2 separate regions of the Homo sapiens genome follow, and region 2 is linked to region 1. Evidence: fine-mapped expression QTL. A gene starts in region 1. The other region holds a variant in brackets. All regions are shown on one strand. Distances are from middle to middle. Region 1 holds the start of SMIM30 (small integral membrane protein 30). Region 2 overlaps LOC107986837.

Region 1 (12,777 bases):
TTTAAACAGAGCATAATTATCTTGATTAATATTGAGAAATACAGTATTTATAATCCCTGTGTTTAACAAAGTGCTACATGATTAGCCCTTTAAAAATAATTAACCCTCTTGTATATAAAATTTCATAATTTCATTTCATATTATGAAGTGCCAACTAATATTTTCAAAATTTTAATCACCCACATAAAATGGATCCAGTGGAAATATGTGAGAAGAGTACTTTAGCTCTGATACTTATAAATCAATGAGAAATTAAACGACATTATCTTTTTTTTGCAGCAATCATATATTTTTCTGGTCTTCTGCATTTTGCATTTAGATGTTAGATGTATATTAGTCAGTTATAGAAAGTATTTAGAAAAATGAAGTTACTGAAAATTAGAAAAAAAATAAACATGCTATTCTGCAAATTTATTTATTGATTTGGCCCCATTTTCACCTATGAGTGAAAATCATGTCTGGGATTAGTAAATCAAGATAAGGGCTTCCTCTCTACTCCCCACCATAGGAAACAAACATTAAACACATTATATGTAGTTTATAATTTCATGACTTCTAATGAGATGAGATTTGTAAGTATTTTTCTTGGTGGAATATGGACCAGATCTGCTATTTTCCTGAACAGGAAAAACCAAATTCCTTGCCTCTCCTTAAATGACCTGGGCAGTTGCTGCTAACCTTCTGTTATGCTACCTAGGAAGGAACCCATGGTTAACGTATTAAGAATCATTAAAAAATAATCAATTATTTTCTTTCCTTTTTTTCCCCTTCGAAAGCATGAGGTACAAACCAGAAGATTTAAAAAAATTTTAGGGTAGTCGAATTTTCTTTTCTTCACAGGTGTCTTTGAGCTTTATCAGTTTGTAAGCTAGAATTGTGTGTGTTGGGAAGGACTATAATAAGAAAAAACAAAGACTGAGTATCATCTTCAAGGGCCTGTTAGGACTTGGGAAAATGTCAAAATTAAAATTAAAGTTTGATATAGGATTTGTTCATATAACTTTTAAGATATCCTCTTTAAAAATTCAAAATTGATGCTTGTAAAGTTTCTTCCCCCTTCTCTTTAGGAAATATCTCTAAATACTCCTAAAAATAATAACATACAGCAAGCCAACCCTTCCACATACACTACCTTAGATATTTCTCATCTACCTAGGAGGTGGAGTGGAGAAATACTATTATTACATCCAATTAACAGACAGGAGATAGCAATTTAAGAGAAAATAAGTGACTTGCCCATTATGACATTTTAATTCTTGGAGAGACGTCTGTTAAATTCCACAGCTTGGACCCTTAGCCTCTATTATAGTACCACTGAAGAGACTGTTATGAGAGTCGCTGGCTGGGAGATGGGTCATATGCAGAAAATTCTCCTCCATTCATTATGTGCTGCAGGCTATATAGCTGCATTACCATTCCTATATCCAAGGTTGGAAATGGCATTTGATAAGCTGGTACAGAGCTAGAAAGCCCAGCAGGACACAGGTGCATGTGAGGTGTAGCTTCTGAGATTTCCTGGACCTGGCTAGTTGGCACAATTGGTATCACATCAGTTTTTCAAGAAGCTCCCACTTGCAGTCTCAATGCTGAGACAAAATATGAATACAGCCCATTTTCTCAAACTTCATCTACGTCCCTGCATTTCTTGATGGTTAGTCTCACTCCCTAGTTGAGACTGTTGGGTTAAGGTAGGAATAAACAATATGCTGGATGGGTGAAGAGGGGAAGGTGGATGTGGGAGATGACGGGACAAAAGTCTGTGAGTAAAATACCTTGAAGTAATCACTTTCCTGGTGTTTTATCTCTCCATCTCTGGAGTAGCTCAGAAAATTCCCTCTTTAAATATGCACCAAGACTTATACTTCTAGAAAGATGGAGTAGACATCTTTTTTCCTTTTCCTCCCACTAAATATAGCTAAAAACCCTGGACATTATGTATAAAACAAACATAGGATTCTGAAAGGCAGAAAGAAGGCACAACAGCTGGGTACCTCAAGAGCAAAGGAACAACAAAGTGGTGAGTTAGCTGGTTTTTTTTTTTTTTCTTCCTGTTTCAGATTGAGAACTGGAGAAGTTGGTAGCACAGAAAGGCCAACGGGCTTAGACCGAAAAAAAAAAAGGGTGGGGGGGTGGGAAACCAAACAAGACTATTCTCTCTAGTATTTAAAGGTATAGGAAAGGTGTAGCTTAGTGAAACAGAAAACTTTTAGAATTGTAGCCCCACTTCCACCATCAGCAAAGGTTGAGTGGAGTGCCAAGACCTCCACTTTCACCAGGCTGTAGATGTTCCAGGCTCCCCACTGAGGTATCACAGAAGGCTGGGTGGGGAGCTGGCACTTTCATCCTCACCAGTTGATAGTAAGAACCTCCCTCTTCTACGCTGGTACCCATGAAGACCATGTGGGTAGCCTGGACTCCACTCCCACCTGGTGGTAACAAGGCAACCTATCACCAGTGTCAGTGGAGGGTATAGGAGGAGCAGTCATGAGGCTTCCACCTGCATCTGGCAGGAAGGAGGAGGCATCCTCCCTTTCTACGAAGGAGTGGTGTCAGAGGAATGTTAAAATACAAAATTTAAATAAGAGCCACAGCCTTTTAAATATAATACCCAGAATGTCCAAATGTCAATAGAAAAATCATCATCATACTAAGAACTGGGAAGATCTCAACTTGAATGAGAAGACAATCAACAGATGCTAAACACCGAGGTGACAGAGATGTTAGGATTATTAAGGATTTAAGCAGCCATGAAAAGGTGCTTCAGTGACAATCACAAACATGCTTGAGACAAATGAAAAAACAGGTCTCCACAAAGAAACACAAGACACAAAGAACAAAATGGAAAGTTTTGAACAAAAAATACAACAGCAGAAACGGTGAACTTAAGCATACAATACTAGAAATTACCCAATCTGAATAAGAGAAAAAAAGGACTGAAAAAATAAATAGAGCCTTAGGTATGCATCAGACTATAACAAAAATATCTAATATTGGGTCCCTGGAGTCCTAGAAGAAAAGGAGAATGAAAGTGGAGCGAAATTTTTGTAAAAAGAAAGAATGGCTGAAAATTTCCTGAATTTGGGAAAAAAGAATAAAACTGTAAGTCTCAGATACCGAGTGAACCCCAAACAGGATAAACCCAAAGATATATCCATGCCGAGATATATCACAAACTTCTAAAAATTAATGACAAAGAAGAGTTATGAAAGCAGTTAAGAGAGAAATGATGCAGGAAATGTACTGATTTTTAGCATTAGAGAACTAAGCTGGTTACATTAAAACTACAGAGAACAGAAATATAAGTATTTGCAAGGACCTTAAATTCTTCACTTGATCTCAACTATTTTTAACTCAACTCAGTGAGCTAACATGCACAAGGCATTTACTAGATATCTACAAATTGTGCTGGGCATCAGAATATTTGCTAATGCCATTCTTGCTGTAACTGCTCCACAGCAGGTGTTATCCCTCATAGAAAATCAAGGAATTTTAGAATTGGAAAGATCCTGGATGGGCTTCAGCTCTGAAACTAATCTAAAAATGTCAGCATGCATGGGAATTTTCCTAAAGAAAAAGATGATAGCTTTCATCAGATTCTCAAAGGAACTGGTGGCCTAAAAATGTTAAGAGCCACCATAAGGGTTCTGTTCTTTTCAGGCAAAGCCATATAATCCAACCTAAATAGATGAGAAATGAGGCTATTTTTAGAGGAGGTGTTCCCCCATCATATCCATCAAAATTCCTGCATGCCACCTCAAGACAATTCTCTACTTTTAAGGGGAAAATAGGGAAATGGCAGTTTTCTAATTCTTTCTAGGCACTTTTGGAAATACACGTTGACCAAAGAATGTTTGCCTATAGTCTTATTTTGAACATTTTAAAAACAGTACCTGGAGGTGACTAAGTGACTACTGCACTGTGATTTAAAATGTACTTTAGGTTTGATTTCTCCCATCCCAATGGAAAAGTTGACATGCAAGGAAGCCGCAGCAGCCTTTCTACATCAGCACCCAATGGGCTGGAGTATAAGAGATGACAATTGTTCTATAACTTGCATCATTCCTTTTTCCTTCTTTAAAACACACAAAAAAATGCAGGTACAATCAAGCTATATTAATTATGAAATGTTTAACTGCCAATTAATTTGAATAAAGACTGTTAGTGCTTCCTCTAGCAAAAAATCGAAACAGCTGTGACAAAAACAAGTGCATTCAGTTTCCATGTCTTTATTCTGTGATGCTTCTTCACTCCTTGTACACTTTAACCAAAACTTTCATGCAAGCCAAGTCAGCTCACTCTAGAATTACACCATAAACAGGACTTTAGGTTGCTAGTGCCTGTTTTTGGATAAAAAATGAGGCTCCCAATGTCATCTGGAGAGCTACAGATTGGAAAATGCATTTTAGGAAAAAATTTCACTACTTACCTCCAGTGTGACCCTAAAGTTTGATTTCCTTAGACTACTTTATGCTGGCTACAACTTGAGAATCAAATGAATCACTGAGGACCCTTGTTAGACATGGAGTTCCAGGCCCCATCTCACAGCTATACAACCAGGAGAAAGACCAGGGAATCAAAAAGTCTTATCAAGTGCCTGGAATGATTCTTGGGCTCAAGCAAGTTGGCAGTCTTCTTAAATTTGTAATGTGCATACAAATTAACTTGGGCTTTGGAAACGAATGCTGTTCCTGATCCAATTGGTCTGGGTGGGGCCTGAGATTCTGCATTTCTAACAAGCCCCAGGTGATGTTGCTGGCTTGAAGACACTTTAAGTAGCTAGGCCAGAGAGGATATTTCGTTTGGCTGGCGTACAAATCAGTTTAAGCCATTTCATTTTCCTTCTATATTTCTAGATTTTCTATCAGGGGCTTCTCTGACCTTAATGCTGCCCAGTTCTCATTATGTCTCTTCAAGCTACCGCAATCAGTTAACACAAGGCATCCTGCCCTTCTCCACTTAGCTCATATAAAAATCCACAATGGATACAAACAGCCCCAAATAAGAAATGGACACGAAACATTAACTTATAACATAATGGGTTTATATTTAATATAGTACTTCTCATCAGGAGGATGTTACTCAGTTAATATAAAGTTTTTTTTCAAAACATTAAATCTCTTTTCCATGTCAATGTCTATAGTTTTTTTTTAACATTAAATTTTTTTCCGCATTTCAGTATTAGATACACTGAATACATTTTTCTAAATGTTTTTTCCCTAGAGATAAAAGTTTTCCTTTTTGCCTGACTCTCTGATATCTAAATATAATATTAACTTGGGAGACAACAAAACAAAAATCTAATTTAAAAGACTCCTCAACGATTCAGGAGGCAGTGATTATAACCGAACAGTGGTGATTTCCTAAGATTCTGGGCAAGAACTTCCTTCTTCCTATTTCACATGCTTTGAGAGAATTCTAAGATTATGAAATATTACTTATGTAAATTTCAGCCATCTTACTTCTTTGACTACCTAACTAGCAAATTATAGGCTGCATTTTTCTGTGCATTATTTGTTGTAAAGAAAACATTTTTTTTTCAATTTATAAATGTATGTTTGTTGCCATTTCATGGAAACAATGAAAAATGTGAAACTCCCTTATTTACTGATTCTTGGAACCTTTCACACACCAAATCTCAGGTTTAGCCTCTAAAGCGCAAAGGTTTTCAGGGTGAGGTTTGACTCAGTAGGCCTTTCAAAGTCACATCTGTCCATTTCTTTTTCGTGCATATACCCCCAAGCAGGCACAAATGCCTGTAATGCTGAGAACCACACCTAACAAAAGGGCGATTGCATCACCGGCTTCTACTGCTTCCACAACAGGCAGCACCAAAAGCAGTGACATGAGGACTAAGGACAACTGTGTTGAAACTGAGGTCATGATGTTGGAATCTTGAGGGCTGAAGGTTCCTAGAAATTAAACATGGAAACAAAAAGGAACCATTAAAAATTCCTCCCTTTTCAAATGACAAAATGAACACATGACAAATAACAGGCCAGCCAATCTTTTGGATACTTTATGAATCATTTCCAATCCATCTCCTCATCTTATAGGTGGAAAAACAGAGGGACGTTAAAGACAGTAATTTGAGGTTCATCTCCCTATCTCGTGATAACACTCTAAACCCAGGAATTTTCCACGATAATGCCAACACCTCGTGCATCAACCAAACAAAAATTGAACAGGAGTTCATAATTAAGAACAAACAGAAAAAAAGCACGAGCCACTAACTTGGAAACTTAAAATATCCTAGTGGGTAAAAATTGTACATTTTCTTAGGGTCTCTCCCATCCAAGAAATGCAGACAAATTTGGCAAAAGTCACACAACATATAACTCTGCGAAGTTGTGGGGAATTAATAAGACTTACCAAAGAAATGGTATATATAGAATTCTATCTGACTTGAAATTTTCCCTTCCTGGAGCTCCGGATGCTGAGATTAAGAGGTTCCACGTGACACGACCTATTATTAGCATGGGGGGTGGGGAGGGGGCGGAGAGAAGGATTTAAAAATTAATTATTATTACTATTATTATTTTAAAGAGGCAGCTAGAGTCAGTGCAGAGCGTGGAGGCCATATGGACGGTAGGGGGATAGGTAATGAGTTGAGAAAAGTCTGTCCAACAGGGAACTAGACTTAAAAGTTGGTCAGTTCACCCACACAAGAAAAGGTAAAAAGAAACAGAACAGAGATAATTTCATTTCAGGACTTGATATTAAGATTTGAAAAAGAATTCGTACTTTGGCCCGGCAAGGTCCAAATTTGCTCCTGTTTTACAAATACACTGGTGCAACCTAAGTATCCTTTGGAGACGAGTTCGTACATTACCTTCTAGGAAGCAGCCATTACAGGAATGGCGAGGAGGGCGGAGTCTCCAAACTACATTTCCCACAATCCCTGCCGCCGCCGACTCCTATGATGCCCCGGCGCGTTCCCCCTATAAGTAGCAGAGGGCGTGACGGTCACGCTCTAGCGGAGGCGAAGAGTCGCGAACGCGCGGGACTTCCTTTCCCTGCCCAACGTTTTACTATTAAATAGATGGTTTCGTGTGTTTATATAAAAGCTCACTTCAAAATAAAAGAAATGATAGCAAGTGTTTTCTACCCTGTTGAGTCTGTAAGGCGCACATGTAATTTTGTCTTTTTCTTCGACTGAAATGACACAGCGGGGAGAGAGAACCCAAGTACAGCCCTCTGTTCCGGGTGCTTTTAAACCAGTGGCTTCCAACGTTTCTGAAGCAGGAAATCTCTGTCACCATCTTCCTAATGAAACATATGCCATTTATTAATTTTTTAGTCAATGGGGAAAAAGCGCGGTTAATAAGACATATCGTAAAAGGTTAAAAAACATTTGTAGTGCAAAATAAAGTTTAGGAAAAATGGGTTTAGCCCTGTTGCAGAAGATCTCTCAGGATTCAGGTCCTAAAGTGACAATCTATTCAGGAGTGCACTGCGGTGATTCCTTCCCACCTATGTTTTTGTGAAACCTCAGCCCCAAATGTCCCTACATATTTGTGAAAAGATGTAAAAATACTGCTTTTAAATCATAAAACAAGAATTAGTTATTTGTATATGTAAGTCGTAACCTTTCTGAAAGGCGCTCTTTCAATTGTCTGCTAATTGTGAACTCCTTACTGAACCTTTCTAGTCATCTGATCTTCTGAACTCTTTCATATTTACTGATTTGAAAATTTATTTGCTATCCTTACATTATAAATTATTAATGATGAGGGTTGGGTGTGAAGCCACCTGCCTGGTCTGAAAGTCCCCTGGTTCAGTCTGTTAGATAATGCAGGTACGTTCAGTTCAATGCCAATAATTAGCATGTATTCTTGTGTTGTCGGTTACCCTTTTTCTTACACGTTCCTAGTCTCTCTAGCAAAGATTTATATTCTTGGCTCCTAACCGGCACCCAGCAGGTGCTCAGTAATGTTGCCTAATAATAATAATGATTTGACTAGATAAATATGCCAACAAGATCTTATGAGAGACCGAGAGGTGCCAAATAAACCAAACCAAGGTGACTAGAAAATTGGAAATCTGAGAATAACTGCACAATAACGTCAGCATTGTTTCTCTAACCTTGATTATTTTAACAAGGTTTTGTTCATTTCATCCTTTGTTTTGAGCTACTTTCGTGCCTTTGTAATCAATTATATTTGGAATAGGAGTTATATTTTTATAGCTTCCAAAATATTCTCTCATATCCTACTGTGAACATTTTGTTTTTCCCTACATGTTTATTTTTCCTTATGTGTTTATTTTAGTTAGCTGAAGTCAGCAGAGACTACTTTAAAGTTAGTATTGTTACAGACTTGTTTCTAGGCACGTCAACATTAAAGATAATGGTTTGGTTTTAAGTTTAAAGAGTCTGTAAGTGGCAAGAAACTTTCTCTTTAAATTATGATGGTTTTTATTAGTTTGTGAAATATATATTATATTGGGAAATGTCGATCTCGGGGGCGGGGTTCCAGTAATAGCTGATGTAGTTGCAAGGATTAATTTCTGGAGTACCATGAATATGATAATCTCCTTCACTGCTTTGACCTGCTCCTACTGTGTGATTTTTAACATGCCTTCACTCTATCTCAGTGAACTGTTATTTCCTAGCTGTAAACCAGGTTAGATATTTTGGCTAGATTGCTGACCAGGATAATAACTGCCATGTTGTACATGTTTGGTCTCTCTTCTAAAAAAGGCGATGATAGATGAGAAGCTGCTTCTGTGTCCGTCATCTGCCAACTACAAGTTCTGCCTGTGAACATCTCTGGTAGCAATGTGAACCACCAATTTTCTGAAGCAATGCTACACTCCCATTTTTCCCAAGCTGTATGAATGTTTCTACAGGCTTCTATGTAGTTGTTCTTTTGACACTAAGTGTCTAGGGTTATAGAATCCATAATTTAGTCTTTCGATTCAAACAAATCTGCACCTACACCATCCTTTACTGAAATAGAGATCAATGGCACCAATGATACTTAAAGCACTTTACTTTAGTTACTTACCTGAGCAGTGGAGAGCAAAATTTTCCATCAGTTGTTACCCAGAAATGGTTTCAGGAAAAAAAAAAAAAAAAAAAAGGAAGTGGCTTCTGCTCATTTTTCTGTTAGAAGTGAGTCATTGGTAGGCCCTGAAGGAAGGCACCTCTGGGATCCATCAGAGGATGCAGGACAGGCCAATATCAGGATTTTGCAGTGACTGGTGTGTGTCAGGGAATTTATAAAACCCAGACTTCCTCATTAGCAATTGAGCCAAGCCAAGTGAGTCGAAACATTTTACTGGAGCTTCACAATTAAAAAAGACCAACCCAGACCTAGTCAGTATTTCCCATCATTAATAGGACTAATCACTGAGAATGTTAGAACTAACTACTCATTAGGTCAAAAGGATGGGAGAAGCTACACTTTCCAGAGCTGTTCAACTACTGCAGAAAACGTCTCCTGAGGCTAAGTACCTCTTGTACCAGCATTTACAGAAGTGTATGGGAGAGGTGCAAAAGGTCATTTTGGGCAAAGTTCCAGGCACCACCTAGAGCCCATTATGTATGTGGTCCTTACTCCCACTGGTGATCGTCATTTGTCTGTGGGAATCAATCACACACGGAAGCTTGTGGAGGATGGGGAAGTAGAGAAACCCCACTCATAGGCATGACAGATTCCACTTTTATTTATATTGCTGATCTTCTTGGAGTAGGTTAAAAATTACTGGATATGACAAAGTTCTAGTTTTGAAAAGTTGTGACATTATCTATATAGCACTTTATCCGTGGTAATGGACTGATTAAGACAGGGTTTGGAGATCATCAGAGGTTGATTCCAAATTTACCTCTGCCACTTTCTAACTCTGTAAACCTGTGCGAATTATCTAACTTCCTGAAACTTGAGTTTTCTCATCTGTAATAAGGGGATCACCAATCTTCATAGGGTTGTTAATGCAGATTGAATGAGGTGACATGTAAAGTGGCTCAGTGTGGTCAGTGTAAGTGACACTATTATTGGCAACAGACGACCTTTCAGAGATGGAAGTAGCTGATCAAATAATATTTATTAAGTGCTACACAAGGAAATTTAAAATCAGAATTAGCTTACATCATGAGAGATGAACAAACATTTATTATGGAAAAAAAGATTTTCTTAGAAAACATGGTTTCATGCTGCATAGGGTCAGATTGATTGATTGACATTTATATTTAACAAACACTTAAAATAGTGACTAATATGCACCAGTAACTATTCCACACATTAATAAATATAAGCCCCTCTACTCCTTAAAATAATCCTGTGAACTGGATACTATTATTATTCTCTGATGAAGAAATTGAGGCATAGTTAAGTAATTTACACCAGGTCACATAACTAGTGAGTGGTATATATCCAGGAAATATGACAAACTTTATACTTTTAATCATTGTCCACATACTGTTATGTGGAAAATGTCCACAGGATCAAAAACCATTTTAATTTTCTTTTTAATAAGGTGTTCTAATGTCGCTTAGGAAGCCTAATCATGTTGACTACTTGAGGGGTTGCTGGTGTTTGTGTACTTCCCTCTAGGCCCTAGTGTGGTGAATGAGGGGGTGCCAGTATTCACCTAATTTATCAGTGGATTTTGACTGAGATTTAATAAATATGTACAAAAAAGTGTTTTTTTAAAAATTGAAGTATATCTGACCCAGGCGCAAAAGCACACATACTAACGAGCATAGATGTTCCCTGTCAACATAGATTGTGAAATGTTGGAAAATTTCAATTATCATGAAATAACTGAAGTCCATATAATATACAAAATTCAAAAAGAAAGTTAAAGAGACCCTTTGAAAATCTTTGCAAGAAGAAAAGATAACTATTGGGTATTGAGCTTAATACCTGGGTGATGAAAGAATATGTACAACAAACCCCCATGACACGTGTTTACCTATGTAACAAACCTGCACATGTGCCCCCAAAGCTCAAAAGTTAAAAAAAAAAAAAGAAAATCTTTGCTAGGGGTCAAGAGTTTAAACTAGTCCCTGCAAAAATGTAGGGAGGTTACTAACAATTCAGTATGTGCATTTCACAGGGAAATATTAATTCCCCTGTGTAGACCAGGTGCTCATTATGATTAAGAGCTGGTAACCATGGAAACAAACAGCATGAAATTTATAAAATTAAAGACATGCTGGATAGAAAATGCAAATAGCCTAGGACAGTGAATCTTGCCCCAACCAGTCTTAGCTTGATTTCCCTTGAATTGAAAGACTTATGAAATTTCTGTCTGGCCATTTTTTGAGTAAAATCACTCAATTTGAGAAACTGAATTTACACTTTGGATATCTCACTTTGTTCATTTGATAATACCTTTTTGAGTCAATCTAGACATGTTGCAGTGTATATAAGGCTAGAATGTATTGGTTAGCAGTATCTAGGAAGTGGTTACTTTTAAATTGATTCTGGAAGCTTAAATGAGTACTTGAACCTTTTATGTAGACATTTATTGTGAATTTCCAGTTGACATACTGTAAGTGATCAGTCACTTTTAGTTTCTAAATTTCTTTCTTTTGCTAAATCACATAGGTGGTCCAAGTAGAACACTTTATGGTAAAACATCAGTTTCTGTGTCACGGAATGATTTACTTATCTATGAAACGGTGAGTGAGATGGCAATAGTAAAGTTTCTTTACTCTTGCTTGTAATATTTTGATTGTTTATAAATCTATTCCTTGAGACCATTAAGACAACAGACTACTTGTCTGTAAATACTCTAAAGTAATGTTGTTTGAATTAAAAATCTTTATAATTTTTAAAATGACAAAAATCTTACTTTCTGCAAGAATAAGTTTACTCAAGGAGGTTGCCAGATTTTCCATTTTACTTTAAAGATAATTTCTTTATCTTAAAGGTGGAATAGGTTATATTAAAAAGATTGCAACTGGTTCAGTTGAGGAAAAAGTCCGGTACAACACTATAGTTTCATTTGATTTTGATTTGGACTCATTTTAATGCATTTTACGCTCTCGTATCTCAGGAGAGTCAAAATAAGTAATTGACCTCAATCTGACAGCCAGAATGAAGCACTGCTTTTGCGAGCATGCCTATCAACACTCGTGAATGTATTTGTGGTGGCTATATAAGGGAAGGGACATAATCCTTTCATCTGCCCTGCTTCAGTAACTCCTTAATAGAATACCGTACGTATCTTTGGTGACCAGACATTAAAAGGGACCTACACAGACAGTAGAGGATCCAGGGAAGAGTGACAGAGTTTATTCAAGTTATCCAAAATTGGTCCTGGAAGAGTGTTCTCAAAGTGTGTTCTGTGTTTCACTTGCATCCCAATTATATGGGGAATTTATTTTAAAATGCAAAACTTTAAAATAAGTTCTCCTGGTAGTTCTTAGGTTCATTTGGTCTTAGAGCCTTTGCCATTTTATGGAGGCTGATTATTTGGGAAGTGGTGACATAGGGGCAACTGAATGACATTAACCTGACGTTAAGTTAATGATGCATTTAACAAGACCCAGTTAGAATTATTCATCTTGCTTTCCTGGATCCCTTCTCAGTTATTGATGAAGTGGAAAATACAAATACTTTTTACTATTTGTATATGTATCAAATGACATTTTTTCTTATCATTTCTTATAGCCTTTCATTTCTGTCTTTAAGTTTTTTTTATTTTTATTTTTATTTTTTTTTTTTGAGACGGAGTCTCGCTCTGTTGCCCAGGCTGGAGTGCAGCGGCGCAATCTCGGCTCACTGCAAGCTCCGCCTCCCGGGTTCACGCCATTCTCCTGCCTCAGCC
Region 2 (12,777 bases), 24 kb after region 1:
CTATTTGGCAAGATAAAACATGCTCAAATGGAACCATTGAGGAGTAGTACTAAACAGAATGTCATTAAATCCCCACCGTGTTCAGAAGAAGAGAAATTAAAAATTCATGCAGGTGAGGCTGAAGAGAAGAGATTCTTGGGACACTCCAAAGGGAAACAGACAGAACCTCATAGATATTTGAATCTTATGATATGCCAGGCATTGTGATGAGTGATGAATATGTATTCTTGTGTCTGTGTGTGTATGTGTGTGTGTGTGTGCGTGCACATGTGTGCATACATAATAGTAACTTTTATTCATTCATTCAATAAACATTTTTAAAAACATGCTTAAAAGACACAAACATAAAATTTATTAACAATTTTTGAGACTATAGTTCAGTAATGTTGAGTATATTCATGTTGTTTTATAACAGAGCTCCAGAACTATTTTGTCATGCAAAACTGAAAGTCTATATTCATTAAACAATTCACTATTTCCCCGTTTCTCTGAGCATATGTTCTTTTATCTAATCCCTGTTACAAATTTGTGGGACAGTTTTAGGAATGCCATTTCACAAGGAATCGAACAAAGCTTAGAGGTTAAAAAAATTTCCAAGGTCTTATAAATAATAAAGATAAAACCAATGAGCCATTGATCAGGAAAGGAGTAAACTATTAGGAACACATAGTTTCAGGTGAGATAGAAGAACTACATTTTGCTTTTTTGCAGGAGTTGGTTTTTATGGACCATTCATGGGCATGGTAGCTCTTGCCTCTAAAATGTGCCACACAGCACCTGATGCTACTCTACTGTCAATACTTCTCTTTCCTAGAACTAAGGTCTCTGCTGTCTCAAACGATGCTGAGCAGAAATGGCTGCCAGATTGAGAACATCAGAAAAATGGTGTGGGTTCCTATGTTCACATTTTGGGCCTGTGATCCTCCCAGGCCACAAGGTATCAAAGACTGTTCTTTAGGGTGAGGGATGTTGGATCAACTTTTAAATCTTGCTAGAAATTTTCATGGGCAAGAGAGAAGGAACTTAAATGTGTCTTCATGGACCGGAAGAGCTGGCCTCTTGGGTTGATAGTGGCAAGGGCAAAGGAGAATCTGGGTGAAAATTTTTGGCCATATTTTCAGGATTACAGGAAGGGAAGGAAGTTAAAATACAAGATATATATATCATCTCCAACCTGGAAGAACTCCGTGTTGGCTAAGGCCTTACAAATAGCTTTTTCCTACTGAGATACATCCTGGCAATAGATTAGGCCACATGTGGAGTTCTACGAAGTGGTTGTTTAAGAAAGGTACTGGGATAGCAGGTGTACTTGGAATGATAAGGCAGGAGTGGAAATGATTAACTGTTGTGAAATAATGCATTTTATTTGTCAAGCACTATGTGAAGTGCTTTATGCACATTTTGTCTAATTCTTAAAATGACTTTTTATGTTAGGCATTATTGTCCTTATTTTATAAACTATGTCTCAGGAAGGTAAAGAATTTGCCTTTGATTACTGGGTTGGTTATTAAACTAACATCTCTCAGCTTCAAACCCAACTGTCTACATTTTGCTTTTTGATACATGGGCTGTGGGCATCTGCAAACCATGTTTCTGCTTTTTTGATTGGTTAAACCCTGTCAGTTGGGGATACTACAGGAAATTGTAAGCAGGAGGAGGTAGATGGAACATGTTCTTTCTTTTTTGCTGTTGTTTTTGTTTTTCTTCCTATTTGCTTTCTGCTGGCTTTCTTTTCCCATGAGCATCACCCAGCAATGCCTCTTCAGTCTTGCAGCAGCAGTTTGTTCCAATAGCAGCAGAGGAGTCCAGTTTGTGGTTTCCCTGACACTCACAGAGTCAGCATCAGTCGCTGGCTCCCCTTCTTCAGAGATCTGGGACCCAGAACCATGGGATGCCTCCTCCCGCTAAGCTCAGGGACTCAGCACCATCAGATTCTCCTCAGGAGTCTGTGAGGCCTGTGCTCCAGGCTTCTAACTGTTAATAATTCTAATATCTTCATTTTGTTCCTCGAATTCTAGGAATGGTTGCTACCTCTATGATACCTTAGAGTTCTCTTTTTGCCATTTCAGTACTTAATTAACAACTTTTATAAAATTAACAATTCTTTATTTTATTTTATTTTATTTTATTTTATTTTATTTTATTTTGAGACAGATTCTCACTCTGTCGCCAGGCTGGAGTGCAGTGGCACGATCTTGGCTTACTGCAAGCTCCACCTCGTGGGTTCAAGGGATTCTCCTGCTTCAGCCTCCCGAAGAACTGGGATTACAAGCACATGCCATCACGCCCAGCTAATTTTTTGTATTTTTAGTAGAGGCGGGGTTTCACCATGTTGTCCAGGATGGTCTCCGTCTCCTGACCTCGTGATCTGCCCGCCTCGGCCTCCGAAAGTGTTGGGATTACAGGCGTGAGCCACTGCACCCGGCCAAAATTAACAATTCTTTATATTAATTTCTTTCTGTTTAACCTGTATGATTTCTGGCTCTTGGCTGGATCCCAAAACAATTAAATAACTATTACTACTGCTCATCATCATCATCATGGCCTCCATTTATTATTTAGCAATGCTTTTAAGGTGGTAGAACTAAGTTCCTCATAGTGGGTGTGGGCAGAATGCACATCCGCTATATTCTTTTCTTGCTACCCAACTGGCTACCTTTGGGATGGAGCAGAATTTTTCAAGGGCACAGGCCATTTGATCTTGCTAGCGCTGGTAGTGTCTATTAGCCCTGATGTGATGTTTTGTAATCTATATATTCAGTGCTAATTAAGCCTCAAAGCAATTCCAGCAAAGCTCTTTATAAGAACCAGGGCTATGTTTATTTTTCCCCATCGACTCTGCAGAGCCAAGAACAGTGTCTAGCAGTGCTTGGTAGGTGTTTAGTATGCATTTGTTGAACAAAAGATTGCATGAATGCATGAGCAAGGCTTAGGAATATTAGAATCTTATCCTCTCCAGTGAATGGATTCTGGAAACTGACTTCTTGGATATCTGGCCTTCTTCCTGATTTGTACTTACGTTGCCATCTGGGACTCAAGCCTTGAACTGAAACCCAGTATGTTCAACAGAGGCCTGACAGCCATTCTATTCAACAGAACTTCTCAACCCCACACTTCTTGTCCCTTTCACTATCTATGCCCTTTGAGTTGTTGGCTTGAGATGTGCTTCCAATCAGATGGACCCTCCTTGAACCATAACATTACTGTGGTTTCTGCCTGCTGCTGAGCTCTACTCTATAGGTCTTTATGGAAGTAACCCCACTCTGAGCACTGGGGAAGGCCTCTTTCCCATTGGGATTTGTACAGCAGCTAACTTCTCCTGCTCTGTACTTTCAGCTGGTTGAGCTACCTCTGTGTCTGCCCCAACCCTAATTCCCTGAATCCCACCCAGGATGCTGGCCCATGCTCTTCTCTCTGCCAGTGTTTGAAGTTCCTGCATGTCTCATGGTTAAGACTGCACAGTTTGGTGTGTTTATAATTCAGGTATTTTTCACTGGTGCTCATTATATGCAGCATAAGTCAAACAAACAGAATTTCTTCTCCACCTGACCTCAGAGATGAAATAAAAACTATCTTTGTGTTTAAATAAACGTTTCCTGGCCACCTTTATGCATAGACAAACTTTCCTTGGGATACTGAAAGAAGAGTATAAGAATATACATACCTATATTTGTAATTCAACATGATTTAACATTATTTTCCCCAGCTGAAGTTATACATGATTTTGTGTAAGATTTAAAATTAATCTCATGTTCAGTTTCAACTTGTTATTGTGTCTACTTTTTTTTTTAACTTGCATAGAAGAACAATTCCATGGATCATATCACCTGATTGACATCTTTCTGGTTTTGCTCTCTCTGTCTAAAATATCAGAGAACAGTAGAAATTTCTGCATGACTCAGAATGTTGAAAAGCCTTATATGATAGTAACATAGCATAAGAGCATATCCTGTGATGATTTTTCTTTTAATAATAGAGTTCTGGTTGTCAGGTTATACTAGGAAGCTTTTCAAGATGGGATGCCTTTGAAGTAACCACACAGTTCCTTCTCTCCTTTTTCTTCTATGATTACTATTTCTTTAAAATGAATAAGTAGGCAATTGATTTTATGCCCAGAACCCAACAATGAGACCCCCACAGAACAGGGATAATTGGAACACAGATATGTGAGCAGATGGGGAAAAATATCAGCAGGAAGGAAATGACCCAATGAAGTCTCAATGAGTAGAATATGGTTTACTGGAAAGTGTATAGCAGGTAGTAGGGACCCAGCAGTAGGTCTGGAGTACAGACATTACTCCCTCAGAAAACTGGGAAAGGCAGGCAGAGGTTTAGGTAAGGTAGATGAAGAGACCAATGTCCTGGAACAACAGTTTGAGATCAGGAACTCAACAGCTGAAGTTCACATAGGCTGACTGAGTTTTAGGACATTGAGCTATGGCCTAAGGCTCTGTGATCTTTTCACTAGTAACTGAGGCAAGCAATAATGAACAATAATTTAGGAGTGAAGTTGGACATAGTGAGTCTTGTCTGGTTCTCCTATGTGTATAATTTAGAAATCAGAACATTGCTATTAAACAAGAGTTAGAAACAGTTTAGGACAAAGGACTTAGACAGCAATATTCTTCCCCAGACAATACCCGCTCCACTTTTCTTCTTATTGTTGTTTTGTGATTAGTTGGAATTAGTTGGAAGGGACCTGGAAAGTCATTATAACACATTTGTAAATATCAGGTTTGGTGTGGAGTAGTATTTGACTTCTGAGGTATGGATGATGATTTGTGACCAATTAAATATCTAAACTTTCTATACTTTAGACGTTGTCAACTAGCTGTAATTTTGCCCTCCCCTTCCCTCAACCCAGGACATCTGGCAATGCCTGGAGACATTTTCGTTTGTCATGACAGGGGAAGGGGGAATGGGAGTTACTGTTACTTCATCTAGTGCAAGGGTCCCCAACTCCCAGGCCGTGGACTGGTACTGGTCTATGGCCTGTTAGGAACTGGGCCATACAGCAGGAGGTAAGCGACTGGAGAGTGAGCACTACTGCCTGAACTCCACCTCCTGCAGATCAGCAGCGACTGATTATGTACCCTATTGTGAACTGTGCATGTGAGGGATCTAGGTTGCATGCTCCTTATGAGAATCTAACTAATGTCTCATCTGAGATGAAACAGTTTCATTCTGAAACCACCCCCCACCCCTGTCCTTGGAAAAATTGTCTTCCACAAAACTGATCCTTGGTGCCAAAATGGTTGGGGACCCCGACAACTTAGGTATGTAGAGGCCGATGACGCTGCTAAATATTCTACAGTGCATAGAAGTCCTCCACATCAAAAAATTATCCAGCCCAAATGCCAATGGTTCTGAGGTTGAGAAGCCCTGCTATAAACCAAACAGACTGTCATTCATTTTGTTTTTTTTTAATCCTGGTATTCTTTGTCACTGTGGATATGTTTCTTGGGCAATTGTTATACCCCATAAATAGTCTAAACTTGTTCTGAATATAACAGAATCATCTTTCGGCACCAGTTGTCTACTCAGTCTCCACAGGTTAGCATTCTCTGACTATGGCATGTGTGTTTGGGTGCATGCAGTTCATAGTAGCAGAATAGAATGAAACTGTAGACATTCACAGACCATCTAAAAGGATTAATACATGACCTTTCCTTTCAGGGTTTTTACCATCTGAGCTACTAAATAAAATAGGTGCTTTACCCAGAGATGCAAGCTTGAAACTACAATGTGACCTAATATGTTGTTTTTAATGCAGATTAGTTTCTTCAATGCCAAGGCAACAAAAACCTGGAGTGAAATCCTATTACTCTTGCAAGCTGATGTGCATATTCTCTTCTCATACACAAACAGCTTGGAGACTTGGACCTAATTTTATGGCATCTGTGTATGCTAGGGCCACTAATAACATAGACACTGACTGGCAAGAGTTGAATGAACTTTGTTAATCTGTTAACCAGCTGGGTTCACTTAGGCCTAGTTGACTTTTTTAGAGGAATTATTCTGTAATTGGAAATTTCTATGCCCCTTACATTTTAGATGATTGAGGGACTTGGTAGGTTTATTCTGCCTTTTGATCTTTAGGTGCTTTTTATGTATCTATTATATAGAATCACAGACTTGAAAAAGACTTGAGTGAGGTCAGCAAGCTACTGCATGCAGCCAAATCTGTCTTGCCACCTGCCTGTTTTTGTAAAATAATATTTTATTAGAACACAGAAATGCTCATTCATTTACGTATTATCTGTGGGTGCTTTTACATTAAAGTGGCAGAATTGAGTAGTTGGAACAGAGATTATATGTCATGCAAAGCCTAAAATACTTATTATCTCTCCTTGAGCAGAAAAAGTTC[G/A]TTGACCCCCACCTAATCCCACTTCCTCATTTTGCAGATGAGGAAACTGACTCTTAGAGGGACTGACTAGACCAAGGTCACACCACTAACAGAAAATCGAGGTTAAAGCATGATTAACACATGTTTTGAGAAATGAGGATGATGAATATCAGACCACTGACAAGCTATGTTCTAACAGCAAAATGAAGAGAAAAAAATATATTCTATAACTTGATTTACCAAAGACGAAAAAACAAAACAAAACTGGCTTGATGGATTTACTTCTTCCCTGAATAGATCAGTTGTCTTTATGTCATGCAGATAGAGCCGAAGCAGGACTTCAGTCAAATGACATCACAATTTTATGCAGCTAGGTGGCTGTTTTCCAAAGAATAGCAGAATATTTGTTGGTCAGCCTCCTGTGTCTCAGCATTATATTCCTCAAAAGTTGAATTATTGATGGTAAGTCAGAGAAGACACTTTGGTAATTGCTGAAATCTTGACTGTATTAAGACTGACTGTCCCTGTGTTCTGCTGTGGCACCAGCTGACAGTGATGAAATCTATAGAAGTAGGGCACATTTCCATAACATGAATATTCAGGGTTGGTGATGCAAGAATTATTATTAAACCACTGGGAAGGAACACATTCTCATTATTTGATTGAATACTAAATGCTGCCTTTTAAAAATAATTCAGTATGAATACTTTGATAATGAGGAAAGAGAGATGCTTGGAAAAAAAACTCATACTTTTTTTTTCTCTGGTACGTAAGAAGGAAATTAAATTAAGTTTAAAATATATAGCATGTCTACAGGAACTATTTTGGAACCATTAGCTATATTTCATCTAAACCTGTCTTACATATATCGAAGTATAATGTAATAGAAGCCTGAATAGAGTCTGATGTAAATGATTTATATAAAAATAAATTATGTAAAGAAGTATAAATAAAGACCCCTGAAAATAAATAAAATGCCTATTACAAATAATAACTTGAAAAAAACTTTAAAAAACCCAATATTTGTTAGACGTTAGATGTGTTTGCTACAGTTCTGAGTTGGATGTGTATGCTGCATTTCTGTAAATGACACAGTTTATATATTTCAAGGACCCCTGGCACCTCTAAGAACCCTGGGTATTCCTCAAAACTGAGTGTACTTCATATATGATGACAGTTCAGACAGCTGAAGTGCCATCATATATGAAGTACATCCAGTTCCTCATAGCCAAGATGTTATGCATAGGAAATAGAAAAGAAAGGAAAATGATTTGATTCATTCATCCATCAAACATGAATCAAGCCTCTGCTACATGCCAGACAGTGCACAAGGCTCTGGTCCTGCACAAATTAAATAAACAAGGTCCTTGTCCTCTAAAAACTGATGATCTAAAGGAGGGTGCAGGCAAGTAAACAGATTTTCAACAGAAAATGGTATGTATTCTGTAATAGAGGTAAGCTCAGATGCCATTGTGGAAAATTTCTCTTCCTTTTTGCTGGTTTCTCATCGTTCCTTCTAGCTCTTCTCCCCTAATCAGTTTAGGTGGGGTTGTCCCTTAGGCCCAGATTGGGTTTGTACCCTTTTGTTTCTCTTTCTACCTCCTCCTTCCTTGAGTGTGCTAACTCCACCCTTGATTTACTAACTGGGTTGTGCTTCCTTGTCTGCCCTCCTAAAGATGGCCATCCCTTGTTAGTGCCTTGAGTTTTCACTTCCTCCTTCTCCTCATTCTCTTCTCTCTTACAAAAATGAAGCCACTGAATGCCCAGTTACTGAGGTTCATGCTTTCACTAGTAAACCAAATACATATTGTGTTAATGCATCTACTAGGTGTTCCTATTTGTTATCACAACTATGCATAGGCATCTATGTAGCAATTTTACTTTAAATGAAAAGTCTTGCATACTACAAATCTTTTATTTGAAAAGGTAGAGGGGTACAAGGCTGAAATTTCAGACATTGTCCCTGGAAGCTCCCTCTGGTTGCACTATTTAGGTAAAAAACAAATGAACAAGAGACTAGGTGAGGCAAAGTCAGTGAGAGACTGGAACAGAAGTCACAGACAATTCTTTTTAGCACAACAGCCACTCATCCCATATTTATTCTTCCCATATTTCTTAAAAGGACATCTGCTCTGTGTGGCGCATGGCAGTGGGATGTATTGGGAAGAATCTGGATTTTGGAATCATACTGTGTTCAAATCAGAGACTCAGCTGTTGCAAAAATAAAAATGCATGTGCAAACACGTAACACACTGCTTGGCTTCAGATCTGTGATCAATACATGTGTTTCTTCATTATTTTCTTTCTTTCCTTCACTAAGAGAGATAATAAACAGTAATCATTTACACATATCTGAGAAAAGAAGCTTTGGAGAGAGAGCAACGAGTGTTTCTGGAACTGACCTCCACACAGAGTAAATTCAGAAATCAGCAGATCTACATTATTTATTCAAAGAGAGAACTGCATTGTAATCACTTTCCTGGATGCATGGGGTGAATGAGTGACAGCAAATACCTCAGTCATTGTGAGATGGCAACCTGAAGTAGGTGCATCTGAGAAAAAGGGCAGAGACCTCCCCAAAGGTCAAACAGAAGCAAGGCAGCAGGCAGCATTGCAGGGGAGGCAACTGCTGGGAAAGACACAGCAAGGAAGAGCTATTATGGGATGCCTCTCTGTGAGGTAGGGAGTGACTGTATATATGTTTTGAGACATCAGATCCTCCTCACCAAAGAGCCACTCTGGAAATTCTTGTTTTGACTTCATCCTTTAAGATTTTAAAAAGCAGTACCCTGAAGCTGTTTTCTTTGTTTTACTTTGCTTTAATGACTTAACAGCATTACAACATGGGTTTAAGTGCAAGAGAGTTTAGAAAACCTTTAGAAAAATAAGTCAAGCAAAGTTCAAAAGAAAACATGAATCTTATGCTAATTTTACCTGTAGGACTCAGGGCAGAAGTGGCCAAGCTTTTTGGCAGAAGGCACTGTTGAAAGGTATTGTGTGGTTGTGGCGGAGACAGTGGGAGGATGAAGTGAATCAGAAACTGTTGTTCTGTCTGGGATGAGGGGAAAATATCTGAAACTACTCCTTCATTGAGCAGAGGGCCAAGGATAGAACCCCAAAGAACCAAACTAAACTCAATCATAGCAAAACATCCTCTTTCTTTTTGTTTCTGCTGCTACACAGAAGAGATGAGGTGGGGATGGTCCATGAAGATGAATGACTGCTTCCTAAGACACTGTGGCGAGGAGGCTGTGGAAAGATGGCAGCAGCAGACTGTGGAGAGAAGTCAATTCACTGTGAGTGGTCAGACAATACCTGAACCAAGAAGACACATGGGACAACCTCTTGGGAACAGAAAGTTCAGAAAAGGGCTAAGAAATAGGATGGAGATAGGGATACTCAATGATCTAGTCATAAGGGATCAAAATGGGAATGCAATTAGGAAGTAGAAGGCCTGAGATAGACAGCAGCCACTGGGATTGGAAGCAATTTTAGGATGATTTCCCAAAGGGTAGAGATGTTCCAACAATAGCTTGATGATAAATTTTGTATTTTTTCAGGGCAGCTTGGCACTTCCCCAGGTAATCCATTCTCAGAGTTTCTGTTCAATCAAAAACTGTAGCTTCTTTGGTTTAGGAGTTTCCTGAGCCTGTCTCAGGGCAATAACGCCTTCTGGGTTAACTGGAGACTTCGTCAGAGACAGATGGGAGCTAACTCCAAAGAGTCATCATGATAACTGCGGTTGTTCAGATTCTTTATTTCTGGGCATCACATAGAATTTAGATTGGGACTCCTTTTCTATCTAACTGAGGGATGGGAATCATAATTGCATATTTAATTTTGTCATTAGAAATGATAATAAACTCATTGCCATTATACCACATGGTTTAAAAATAATCTGTTAGAGCATTTGTTTCTTGTTGTTCAATGTAACCAACCTTATTAAAGACCTTGTATCAACAGTGTTGTTTTGTTTTGTGGCATAATTAAAATCATATTTCTGACTTGTGTAACGTATAAACACATGCAAAGTTGTCATATTTTTTTATGAATACAGTGATAGAATATATGGGACTTTTGATAACTTACTGGTTTTTAAATGACAGAATTCATTTTTTTTTTGCATCCTGAATCAGAGTTGTGATTTGCTAAGTCTGGTATTAAAAAATAACTCATTTATCCAGAGCTGGAAGAGGTCAGTGAGACAGATAAGAACATTTCCTCAGTTTACATTCCAGGAGTGTGTCTACGTGCAAAGCCTATAGAGTTGGAGGAAGCATGGGGAAGCCCAGTAAGGAGAAGATAGACTAGGAGAGGGATGAAATGGGCTGCTGTCAAAGACCAAATGCATCTGTGACTTGTATTACTGAGGAAATGCAGTATTTCAGAACTCTTTTTAAGGAGAGGACTATCTGGATCCACCAGGGCTACCTTCTTCCTAAAGATCTGCTGTGTCCTGCTGCTGGGTGAATTGCCTTCTAGTGAATTGCCCACTCAGGTAGAGTTCAATACTCTACGAAGAAGAGTTGTCTTAATAGAAAGAATGACTGTTTGGAATGACTTTGAGTCTCATTGGAGAGTGAGATCATGTGCCATGCCCTTCAGCACATTCTTGCCAATTGGCAGTGGATGAAAATTGGACCAATCCTCTGACTGGTCCTTGAAATTTCACAGGACAGGCTCAGCGTCCCAGATGAATAGGATTATTGGCATCAGTGACTTCATTTTTACTTCTTATATTAGTTTACCAGGACTGCCATAACAAAATATTGTGACTGGGTGGCTCAATCAAGAAAAATTTATTTTCTCACAGTTCTGGAGGCTGGATGTCATCCAAGTTCAAGGTACCTGCAGGTTTGGTTTCTAGTGAGGCTTCTCTCCTTGGTCTGCAGATGGCTGCCTTCTTGCTATGTCCTCACACAGCCTTTTCTCTGTGTGCCAGCATCCCTGTGTCCCTTCCTTTTCTTTTAAGGAAACCAGTCCTCTTGGATTAGGGCCCTACCTGATGACCTTATTTATCCTTAATTACCTCTTTAAAGGCTTCATCTCTAAATACAGTTTCATTGGGAGTTAGGGCTTCAACATATAACTTTTGGAGGACACAATTCGGTCCAAAAAACTTCTCATACAGCTTCTGTTGGTAGGGAACATCAGTAGAAATGTAGCATGAGCAAAAAATAAACCTGATATTTTTGAGGCACTGAGATTTTAGGTTTGCTTGTTAATGTAGCACAACCCCGTCTACTCAGATTAATAATCATGGCTTGTATTTACTCTGAGTTGAACAGCAACATGTGGTCTTGTTTAACAAGACAGGTCTTTTGGTAGGTCCTGCACTCCTATGCACCTACATATAATCAGGTATACCACATCCCCTCAGAAAGGATGCTTGAGAATCCTTTCAGGTGAGAGGTGCCAAGTGAAATTGCATCAATGTTTAACTGTTATTTATTGAGAACCCATTGTGTCAGACTCTAGAGATACAGTGGTAAATAAGACAAAATCTCCACCGCATTCCTCATAGCTCAAAGGAAGAGAGATATTAAACAAATAAACATGCAGATTAGTGTTTACTTAATACAATTTAGGTAAGTGCTGACAAAATAGTATATTTTATTTTTTCTTGTCAATTTTAGCTTCAAAGAGGACTGTTTTCTCATAAATGAAGCCTGGTATATCTAGAAATTAGGTGCCAATACTCCATGGGCACAGGCAGAGACTGAAAGAGTAGTGTCCTAGGCAGGATGGCTGAAATTGTGTCAGCTCTTTGCAGTCTGGTTTGGGAGTAATCAGCATGTAGATGATAACTGAAGTTATAGGGATGGTTGAGATCACCCATGTTGGGTGAAAATAAGGTAGGGTGTGAAAAAAGGGAGACCACAGTATGAGCCTGAGAACATCAACATTTAAAGAACAGGTAGAGAATGAGTTTCATTCAAAGTGAGTGGAAACAGAGCCCCTTGGGAGTTAAGAAGAAAGTAAAAAAAAGTAGTACTACAGAAGCCAAGTGAAGATATCATTTTCAGGAGTAGGAGAGAGTGGACAAACCTGTCAAGGATTAAGCAACAGAACAAAAATGCACACATGGGATTTAACAAGGAAGGGGTTATTGATGACTTTAATGAAAGTGGTGAAGGTAGAAACAGACCCAGTGAGTTGAGGCATGAATGGGAGTTGAAGAAATACCTGTGGGGATGTCTACAGCTCTTCTAAAATATGTGGTTGTAGTTATTTTAAGAGTATAATTGGATTTTTTTTTTAACACAAAGAGGATAAATGCTTGAGGGGATGAATACTGCATTTACCCTGATGTGATTATTACCCCTTGTATGCCTGTATCAAAATATCTTACATACCTTATAAATATATACACCTACTATATACCCACAACAATTTAAAAATATTTTTTAATGTGTCTGTAGAGGAGAGGA

Evidence for each region. PIP is the estimated chance that this variant, and not a neighbour inherited with it, causes the effect.
Region 2: its variant is fine-mapped to the expression of SMIM30 in whole blood (TOPMed, PIP above 0.99). The same link has a PIP of 0.9 or more in monocytes.

The regions. Positions count from the first base shown.
Region 1 is chr7:113,111,699-113,124,475 of GRCh38, forward strand. SMIM30 (small integral membrane protein 30) reads right to left here and starts at 6,856. Exons shown (of 3, transcript NM_001352688.2): 1 at 6,830-6,856; 2 at 6,370-6,463; 3 at 5,020-5,909. The coding sequence starts at 5,880. The coding sequence ends at 5,701. All of the region lies in intron 2 of LOC107986837, which reads left to right. RefSeq lists enhancers at 6,627-7,221, 7,116-7,255.
Region 2 is chr7:113,136,134-113,148,910 of GRCh38, forward strand. LOC107986837 reads left to right here. Exons shown (of 4, transcript XM_047421162.1): 3 at 9,530-9,642; 4 at 9,907-10,308. The coding sequence ends at 9,993. Among named protein-coding and RNA genes, the nearest start is that of SMIM30, 24 kb to the left of the region's middle. The variant G/A (reference allele first, on the strand shown) is at 6,368.